2 separate regions of the Homo sapiens genome follow, and region 2 is linked to region 1. The links come from fine-mapping of genetic effects on gene expression. A gene starts in region 1. The other region holds a variant in brackets. All regions are shown on one strand. Distances are from middle to middle.

Region 1 (5,381 bases):
GACAAACAGTCTATGTTCAGGAAATATTTGTTGGCCTGAATCAAACCACACTAGACTACTAATGAATATTTTAAAATTTAATTTTCACAGCTACCCTGGGCATAGGTATGTTTGTGCCCAGAATAGTTTTCTTTTTATTTATTTATTTTTTGAGATATGGTCTTACTCTGTTGCCCAGTCTGGAGTGCAGTGGTGCCATCATAGCTCACTGCAGCCCCGACCTCCTGGGCTCAAGCAATCCTCTCACCTCAGCCATCCAAGTAGCTGGCACCACAAGTGTAAGCCACCACGCGTGGCTAATTTTTGTTTTTTTTTTTTGTACAGATGGGGTTTTGCCATGTTGACCAGGCTGGTCTCGAAATCATGAGTTCAAGTGATTCTCCTGCCTCGGCCTCCCTAAATGCTGGGATTACAGGCATGAGCCACCATGCCTGGACAAGAAGTTTTATATACAAGTTTGACAACTGATTAAAGTGCTTGTGAAAGATACAGATTCCTGGGCCCCACCCTATAAATCCTGATACAAGAGATCTGGGTAGGGTGGTTGGAGCCTGGGAATCTGCACTTTTGACAAATGCCTCAGATGTTTCTGATACAGCTTGGGAACCAAAGGCAGCTTGTAAACTAGTACATTCAATGCTTTAAGCACTTCACATTGCCCTTGTATTTCAGGCTCTAAATGCCTTGAAGCTTGATCTGAAAAGAATATATGATCATCCTAACATGTAGGTTTACCAAAGATGGTAAACTAGAAGATGGTAGACTTCTTACAAATCTTGAGTTCCAAATGGCTACTCTTCTTGGTGGGTCTGAAGATTTCTGAGAACTCTCTGACCCAGTCACTGTAAGAGACCTAACAAAGAAATTGTATGGAAGACAGAGATCGAGAAGGATTTACTTGCCTTAGAAGAGCTTTCAGAACCTGTTAACTGTTTACAGATTAACGCTTTAAAGAAGATGGGTTAAGGAGAGGAAAGGAGATTAAATGTGTTTATAGAAGAACAACAAATGCCTAGCACTTAGGGAGGCTGAAGTGGGTGGATTGCTTGAGTTCAGAAGTTCGAGACCAGCCTGGGCAACATGGTGAAACTCCGTATCTACAAAAATTACAAAAATTAGCCAGGTGTAGTGGCTTGCACATGTAGTCCTAGCTACTTGCGGGGGCTGAGGCTGGAGGATTGCTTGAGCCCAGGAGGTGGAGGTTGCAGTGAGCCGACATAGTGCCACTGCACTCCAGCCCGGTGACAGAGCGAGACCCTGGCTCAACAACAACAGCAACAACAACAAAAAGAAAAACAACAAAATGCCAATACACATATGAGAGATTACAATTTTCCAATAAACAAAGAAATGCTTATTAAAACCACATTGAGAAATGAGGGGAAAAAACCTGTAAACTGTCTGCAAATGTGAATTCACCAGGCAAAAATTCATAATAAACTAAATGAGTAGGTGTCCCTAATTTTAAGTCGGTTGTCAGGGATGAATGACTAGCATTGTTAATTACACTTGTAATAATGTGAGCATCATTTTGCCTGTGTGCTTTGTGCCACCTCTGCCAACACCCTGGGATCCACCCCAAATCACTGACCACAACCTTAATCAAGACTGCCTAGGCCGGGCATGGTGGCTCACGCCTGTAATCCTAGCACTCTGGAAGGCTGAGGCATGAAGATCGCTTGAGTCCAGAGTTTGAGACCAGCCTGGGCAACATAGTGAGACCCCATTTCTAAAATAAATAAATAAATAAATAAATAAATAAATAAATAAATAAATAAAATTAGCCAGGCACTGTGGTGTGTGCCTGTAGTCCCAACTACTCTCTGGAGCCTGAAGTGGAAGGATCACTTGAGCCTGGGAGGTCAAGGATGCAGTGAGCCATGATCCTGCCACTGCACTCCAGCCTGGGCAACAGAGCAAGACTCCATCTCTAAAAAAAGAAGAAAGAAAGAAAGAGAGAAAGAAAGAAAGAAAGAAAGAAAGAAAGAAAGAAAGAAAGAAAGAAAGAAAGAGAAGATGCCTATCCAGAGGAATCCACCAAAACAAAACAAAACAAACAAAAAAAATGAAAAAAAAACCAGAAATAACAAAACATTTGTATTGTATGTTACACATGAAGCACATTAAGTGATTTCCTTTGTTCATTGTAACCTTGTGAGGGAACTGGATTTTTGTCCCTATTATTCCCATTGCATAGATAAATAAACTGAGGCTTGACATGCCCAATAAGTCACAGGTAGTAAAAGCAGTGCGTTAGCTTAAATCTCTGATCTCCTCACGCCCCACACTGACTCAACAGTAACAATACATTACTACAAAGGATGTCTGTGATGACAGTGGCCATCCCATTTGATCCTCGTTATTCTTCTTTTATCGAAGGAAACTGAGAGTCACCTTCTTTTCTAGGCAGTTAGGTAACTGAAGCCGAAAGGTATTGTGACAGATCCACTGGGCTGTAAAAGGCAGCGTGTGGAGGTGGAGCCCAGAGTTTCTGCCTCCACAGTTAAAAGCTCAGACAGGGCTTTGGGAGCAGGGCCTGCAAATCAAAGATGAAAGAACAACCTGTCTTGGAGCGCTTGCAGGTAAGCTCAGGCTGCTCGACTGGCGGGGAACAAGGACCTTAGGCGATTCGCTAGATCTGCGCCCCCGGCCTTAGATAGAAGTGGGTGGGGCCAGGGACACTACATCTAACGAGGATCTAGAATAGCTAGGATTTATGAAATACCGGCTTTCAAGTTCTCTGGTCTCCACCCAAAGATGATTATCCTATCTAAGGTAGTGTACGCTACTACAGGGCAGGTCCCGCAGCCCCCGTTTCAAGAGCTGGGATGCGGCCATAGCGGAGGTGGTGTCAGAGCGGAAACCTAGCGGGGGTCGGGGGTTCAGCTCGGGGCGGTGGGAAACACCCCGGGAGAGGAGGCAGCTCTGATTCCGCTCCGGGCCGGAGGGAGAGGAGTTCGGAGGTGGCTTGAGCTGAGAATCCGGAGGAGAGAAGGCGCGTTTTGAGCTGCCACGGGCACAGATCTCAGACCCGGACGCTGACTAGCCGGGGGTCGCGGCTTTCCGAGGCGGCTGGAGAAGTGCCCAGACGGCCGTCCCTCCGCGCCCCTGCGCGTCCCCGTGCGCCCAGTGTTCCCCGTGCAGGAGTCCCGGAGCGATGACAGCGCCGGTTACGGTAAACACCCGCCCCGCCGCAGTCCGCTTCCTTCCCCAACGCGGCGCCGCCCGGACTTGCAACCTCAGGAGTCCCCGCTGGCTCCTCTCCACCGCTGGCATATGGCGCAACAGGAAGTTCTGGGGGCTTGGAGAGGGAGGGTGCTCCTGGCTGTTGGGAGAGCACTGGAGACGCTTGGGAGAGTAGTGGAGATCCTGGTAATTTCTTGGTCTCGCCTATTTTGTCTGGACTTTCTCACACTGTGTATGAAAAATAAGTATAATTGAGCACATTGTATTTCAGGAATAGTCCAGGCAGCTTAGCAAACGTTAGCTCATTTCAGCCTGCTCTGATAAGAACATATGCTCTGGAGCCAGGTAGCCTGAATTAGCATCCCAGCTGCATCACTACCTGTGATTTTGGGCGAGTTAACATCTGTTCTTCGGCTTTCTCATCTGGAAAATGGGATAATACGATTTGTAGTTTCAAGATGAATTGAAATGCTACATGCCATTTGCACTTAGAATAATGCCTGACGTATTTAGCAGGTTGTAAGAGTTTGGGATTCTTAACTATTTCATCCTGGCAGTAATCCTATAAAGTCCAAGTATCCTGTCTCTCCCATCTCCACCGGTTTACAGGTGAGGAAAATGAAACCAAAGGAGAAAAGCAGATTTGAGATTTGAACTCAGGTCAGTGCTTTAAGACACGGAGAACATAAAAAAGAAAAAAAAAAAAGAGAAAAAAAGACACTGAGAACATAGATGTTCTAGTCATACACATCATTTGTGATTATTTGTTCTAGGGAGAAATGATCACCTTTAATTGTTAAAGTGGGAAACGAGTTATTCAATTTCTTTCCCCCTGTATACAGATTTTGATGTTTCACTGTCATCTGCTTTGGGTTCTTACAGGACTGATAAAGCGTTAGCTATTTTGGCCAGACTGGAATCTGGGCTTGACTTTAAGAATCTGGTTGTTTCTTATGTTTCCCACCAGGAGTGGTAACCATCTAGGGTAGGAGTTAGCATGAGTTTTGTTTTTTGGGCCAAAACTGGAGACTAGTACCCTTTGGTAGTGTTAAACTTGTCTTGATAGACAAGGGCATGAATAGCATTTGAGATCATTATACCAGAGGTGAAGGGAAAGAATCGTGCAATATGTTGCAATTTGTCACAAATTTTGGTCTTATCTTGCCTATTTACAATTATCTATCATAGTTAATTTTTTGGATAGGACATCTATGCCAAAACTATCAAGCATTTGGTAAATACTGTGCCTGAAATATGGCTTCTCTCTTTTTCCTTCTTTTTCAAATTTCTCACTTTTTATTTTATTTTATTTTTTTGAGACAGAGTCTCGCTGTGTTGCCCAGACTGGTCTTGAACTCCTGGGCTCAAGCAATCCTCTTTGGCCTCCCAAAGTGCCAAGATTACAGGCCTGAGCCACTGTGCCTGGCCTCACTGTGTTTTAAATCATGAGTTTTCAGTATAAACAGCCCAAATAATCTGAGTGATTTTCATTATACTTCTGGTAGAATCAATACCATGCTGGAACTGAAAGTGACCATCCTACCTATAACTCAGTTATTCCTTTGTGACACATCAGAAGTCTACATGGCAACTATTTTCTGTAAAATCCATCACTGTTAGGTAAGATATTATGATGTGAGTCTCACTAGTGCCTTTTTTCTTTACTTCTTAGTTTTATTGAAGTTTTACGTTCTCATTGTTCAGAATCAATTAATTCCATAGGGTTAATATCTAAAAACAGTAGAACCCTCCATCACTTCCTGCTTTTTAAGAGAAGTAATCATGTTCATCTCTTTTAACTAGTTACTATTTGTCTGTATCTCTAGATATTCCTTATAATTGCTCCTTCTTGGTTTTTGAGGTTTAGTCATCATGCATTGACTTTCCTGCAAGAAATGTGTGGATTTAACTCTTTTCTGTTTTCCTGCCACTACCACTTACATGCATCCTACCTATTCCTTCCATAGATCCTCTGAATATAGTTATCTCATAATTTTTGGTTAGGTCAATATTTAGTTAGGTCAACATTATTATGCCTCCCTACATGCTATTAAAAGCTTTCTTCCTTGTTTTTTTCCAGAGTTGTCTCTCTGTGTTTGCAAAGTTTTCACCAATTTAACCACAAGTTCTTTGTTAGTTGTCTAAATCTTCCCTCAAGATGTCCAATGCAACAGCTATTTGAATCAATTTTATTT
Region 2 (5,381 bases), 21 kb after region 1:
CCTGTTTTCTCAACATAAAATAAACTGTGCCTATAAAATGTCATGTAAAAGATCTCTGGCACTAGCATTAGAACCTGCTCCTTCTCGGTGAAGAGGGAATAAATAGTACTGTGATGAGCCACAGAATTGTGAATATTGCTTTAGCTAAAGCACCTAAGACATTTAGCCCTCCCAGCCTTTGGCAGATACGACAGACTACTTTAGTGTTGGCTTTTGCTTTATATCGTCCATTTATGACAGTTTCTTTTTTTTTTTTTTTTGAGATGGAGTCTCGCTCTGTTGCCCAGGCTGGAGTGCAGTGGCGTTACCTCCGCCTCCTGGGTTCAAGTGATTCTCCTGCCTCAGCTTCCCGAGTAGCTGGGACTACAGGTGCGTGCCACCATGCCTGGCTAATTTTTTGTATTTTTAGTAGTGACGGGGTTTCACCATGTTAGTCAGGATGGTCTCGATCTCCTGACCTTGTGATCTGCCTGCCTCGGCCTCCCAAAGTGCTGGGATTACAGGCCGGCCCTGACTGTTGTTTTTAGTATTGCTTCTCCCAAGAGAATCTTACACTAACTACCTATCTCCTCTGTTTTACAACCTTTTTCCTGAATCTCTTGAAATTGATTTGTTCATCGTGGACAAAATTGCCATTCTTCTTATCTTCTTTTTAGTATTAAGTATGTCTTATCAGTTTTTCTTTGAAATTTTCTACTTTGATAATGATGCAAACATTTTACTAAACTGAGAAACTGTCTCCCTTCCCTAATTCAGGTATCAAACCACCATCCTGGCTAGTAAGTCTCTATTCTCTATCCCCCAAACTCTTTCTTCTGCATCCTTGTTTAGATGTTTCTGAAAGTTCTTGACCCTTTGATCGTCTCTATTATCTGTCCTTCAGTGACCTCATGGCTTTTGTCATCACCTTAAAGTGAACCTCTTCTAAATTTTCCTCTAGGCTGAAATCTCCACGTTTCTAACCACCATGGACACCCTCGCCACCTTTTAAAACCTTTGTTGTCTTTCAAGAACTTTCATAAATTCCATGTCTTCCATGAAAACATCTCAAGTATCTACAGGCAGAAGGAATTTCTCCTTCACTAGTGTCCTGTTGCCTACGATTGTAACATTTATGACCCACTTCCTTACTTAGTATCCATTTGTTAACATAAGTGCTTCTCATTTGCTGGTGGCATTTGGGACACTTTTTATTTTATTTTATTTTATTTTATTTTTTGAGATGGAGTCTCGCTCTGTCGACCAGGCTGGAGTGCAGTGGCATGATCTCAGCTCACTGCAACCTCCACCTCCTGGGTTCAAATGATTCTCCTGCCTCAGCCTCCCGAGTAGCTGGGATTACAGGCATGCACCACCATGCCCAGCTAATTTTTGTATTTTCAGTAGAGATGGGGTTTCATCATGTTGGCCAGGCTGGTCTCAAACTCCTGACCTCAGGTGATCCACCTGCCTCGGCCTCCCTAAGTGTTGGGATTACAGGCGTGAGCCACCACACCCGGCGGGACACTTTTTTGTTTTATTTATTTTAATTAGAATAACATGAGGTGTCAAAGTTTTTTTTTTTTTTGCGGAGTCTCGCTCTGTCAGGCTGGAGTACAGGGGTGCAATCTCAGCCTACTGCAACCTCTGTCTCCCGGATTCAAGTGATTCTCCTGCCTCAGCCTCCTGAGTAGCTGGGATTACAGGCCTGTGCCACCATGCCCAGCTAATTTTTTTTGTTTTTAATAGAGTTGGGGTTTCGCCATGTTGGCCAGGCTGGTCTGGAACTCCTGACCTCACGTGACCCTGTGCATCGGCCTCCCAAAGTGCTGGGATTACAGGCGTGAGCCACTGCGTCTGGCCATCAAAGTATTTTTTTTTAAATGAATGAATAAACCTATTATTCTTAGAGGTATCAATTTTTCTTTTCATTTGTTTCTTCCTTTCGAGGTTTCAATGTTTTAAAAGAGGTGGATAAACTGATAGGATGTATCCTGCCTATGGATTGTAAAGGGCTGGTTCCACACTTCGCAAGCTTCCCAAGGTCACTGAATTTAACGACATCTTCTGGAGGGTGGGTGTGGTAGGCATTAAAGTTGGCTGTAAGTTTAGAAATTGAATGCATTCCAAACTACCCTTGAAAAGTCCCTTTCATTGAGCATAAAATACAGTACATGAAGATTTTATCTTGTGTTGGAACTTTCTTCAGTTGAGTACCAGATTAAACAGGGGATCTAGAATCTACTCATTAAGATGAGGTATGCAGACTAAGATATGCATGTGGGAACTGAGACCATCTGGGGAATGGTATATTCTTGCTCTCACAGACTCCACTCTAGTGTCTACACACAGTCACTTGTGTGCAGTAGTTCTCTGTATGTGGTCCAAGGACTCCTAGAGGTCTCTAAGACCTTTTCAGAGGGTCCTCAGAGTCAAAATTATTTTCATAATGGTACTAAGATGCTATTTGCCCTTTTGACATATTTTCTCATGAGTGTACAGTGGAGTTTTCCCAAGGGTACATGATGAATACACAATGATCTAAAAAGGCCATTAAAATACTCTCCCTTTTCAACTACATGTCTCTGTGAGGCAGATTTTCTTTGTATACTTCAAGCAAAACCACTTATTGCAAAGGATTGAGTGCAGAAGCAAACATGAGAATTTAGCCATCTTTAGCCAGACATGAAAGAGATTTGCAAAAACATAAGACAGTGCTCTGTTTATGAACTTTTTTGGAAAATTTTTGTGTTAGCATGTAACAGGTTAAAATGAACTAATAAGTAAATATTTTTAAATGTCTCAGTTTTAATTTCATATGTGGTAAATATTGGTAGACATAATTTAAATAAACAAAATACTTTTTGGAGTACTTGGTAGTTTTTATGATTATGAAAGGATCCTAAGCTCAAGAAGTTTCAGAACTGCTGCTTTTGGAAATAAGATACTCCTGAGGCTGGATGCGGTGGCTCACGCCTGTAATCCCTGCACTTTGGGAGACTGAGGTGGGTGTATCACCTGAGGTCAGGAGTTCAAGACCAGCCTGGCCAACATGGTAAAACCCTGTCTCTACTGAAAATACAAAATTAGCCGGGTGTGGTGGGGCATGCCTGTAATCCCAGCTACTCAAGAGGCTGAGGCAGGAGAATCGCTTGAATCTGGGAGGTTGAGGTTGCAGTGAGCCGAGATCACGCCATTGCACTCTAGCCTGGGCAACAAGAGTGAAACTCTGTCTCAAAAACAAAAAAACAAAAAACAAAAAACCCCCCCAAAAAAATCAAACCTACTGATAGTGGAATGACAGTGAAACTGCCCACACTATTAAAACTGTTTTTCTCTCTGTCTTATTTTTCACCTTCTAGCCTTCTCTCATTCTTTTAGCAAAGCTTTTGAATTTGTCTAAGTTACACACG[T/C]GGTATGAGTGTCCCCCAAATTTTAAGGAGCAAAATCCAGTTGTGTCTTCTTTGTGCTGTGCTATACTGAAAAAAATAAGACAAATAATCTCCATTGTCTATATAAACCTTACTATGAATGTCATAAATAAAATTTAACCTGTAACTTCTTTTTAAAAATGTTTCTATTTTTTATATTATTGGACGTAGACACGGGGTCTCGATATGTTGCCCAGGCTGGCCTTGATCTCCTGGGCTCAATGATTCTCTAGCCATGGCCTCCCAAAGTGCTGGGATTCTAGGCGTGAGCCACCATGCCTGGCCAAACATGTAACTTCTAATAAAGGCTTTATTGTCTGAGAGGTTGGTAAGTTTCCTAAAAGTCAATTATTTAACAGTATATTTTCCCCAGTCATGGTGGTACATATCTGTAGTCCCAGATTCTCAGGGGGCTGAGGCAGGAATATCACTTGATCCTAGGAGTTCAAGGCCACAGTGTGCTGTGATCACGCCTGTGAATAGCCACTGCACTTCAGCCTGGGCAACATAGCAAGACTCTGTATTAAAACAAAAATAAAAGCATAGTTTCATGAGCCACTCCAAAAAAGACTTTATTTTAGGTCATGTAGTTTATTTGCATGTAGTACTAGTAAAGTTTTGGATAATTTAACAAGATATTTGGAGCATAAATGAAGACCATCTGTGTACATAGATAACAAATTTGTGAGCATTTTGGAGCTTGGAAATTGGAGAGAATTGAGTGCATGTAGGTGGAAAATCTAACCAGATTAGAGTGGTTGTACTACAAATAGGCCCAGCATTTGGTTAAATCTCTGTATTTTACTATCGAGGGACAGTTGTAAAGTACACTCATAAAGGAGACTTCCATTTCCTCTTCCCTTTTTATCAGAATGATTTAACAAGATCTGAAATTATAAATGTTTCATTTGCATGTTTTATTCCCCAGGAGACTGGTTAAACCCTGAAGCGTGAGTGACAACTGAGGAAAAGGATGTCTTTCGCTGCTATTTTGAAATTGGGTTTTGGGGCTGAAATAATGAGGGCTTCAACCAATTTGGAAAGAGGAAGGAAGGGGTATGATATCACTTCACTTTTCACCTTTCTGATGCACTTTACTTGGAAGGTTACTGTTGAGTTCCTCTAATCCCCTATTTGGCTCCAGGAAGATTTATAAATGTTTTACTCCTTAACTCTTGAGTTTATATAATCTAGAAATTCATTCTGACGTTCCATTTTTTTTTTTTTTTTGAGAGGGAATTTCTCTCTCATTGCCCAGGCTGGAGTGCAGTGGCACGATCTCAGCCCACTGCAACTTCCACCTCCTGGGTTCAAGCGATTCTCTTGCCTCAGCCTCCTGAGTAGCTGGGATTACAGGCGCCCACGACTGCGCGTGGCTAATTTTTTGTATTTTTAGTAGAGACAGGGTTTCATCATGTTGGCCAGGCTGGTCTCGAACTCCTGACCTCAGGTGATCCACCCACCTCAGCCTCCCAAAGTACAGGGATTCAGGCATGAGCCACTGCACCAGGCCTCATTCCAAGGTTCTAAATGCCTTTGCTTAGCAAAGCACTATGTGAAAATGTTAGTAAAATTTCTCAACTACTCAGGAGAAATGGCGTTTTAGGGAATTGTGAATTATTTAGTTGACATTCAATTTTTAGAGATGTTACCAAAAATAAATTACTACCAGCTAAATAGTGCTCACCTTTTACCACCAAAGTGAGATGAAGGTGTAAGGTTACTTTGTGTTCTCTGCCTCCTGGACAGACTATTTAGTGGAAAATCAGTCAACACACTTTCTGGTAGTGTTGGTGGAACAGGAACTTGGTTTTTAGATATTTTTAGCCTGGATGCTGTTTTTCTGAGACTGCCCCTCTCGGATCAAGTGTCAGGTAGGTATCCTTGCAGAATTTGGACAGATAGAAGGCCCTGAGCTGACACTTGAAAGTGGATGGGCTGGCTTTGCACTGATGGATTCCCTGAGCCAAC

Evidence for each region. PIP is the estimated chance that this variant, and not a neighbour inherited with it, causes the effect.
Region 2: its variant is fine-mapped to the expression of TRPM6 in whole blood (INTERVAL, PIP above 0.99).

Annotation. Positions count from the first base shown.
Region 1 is chr9:74,885,025-74,890,405 of GRCh38, reverse strand. It overlaps TRPM6 (transient receptor potential cation channel subfamily M member 6), which reads left to right and starts at 2,485. Exons shown (of 39, transcript NM_017662.5): 1 at 2,485-2,582. The coding sequence starts at 2,550. RefSeq lists an enhancer at 3,099-3,393.
Region 2 is chr9:74,864,333-74,869,713 of GRCh38, reverse strand. All of the region lies in intron 1 of TRPM6 (transient receptor potential cation channel subfamily M member 6), which reads left to right. Among named protein-coding and RNA genes, the nearest start is that of TRPM6, 21 kb to the left of the region's middle. The variant T/C (reference allele first, on the strand shown) is at 3,393.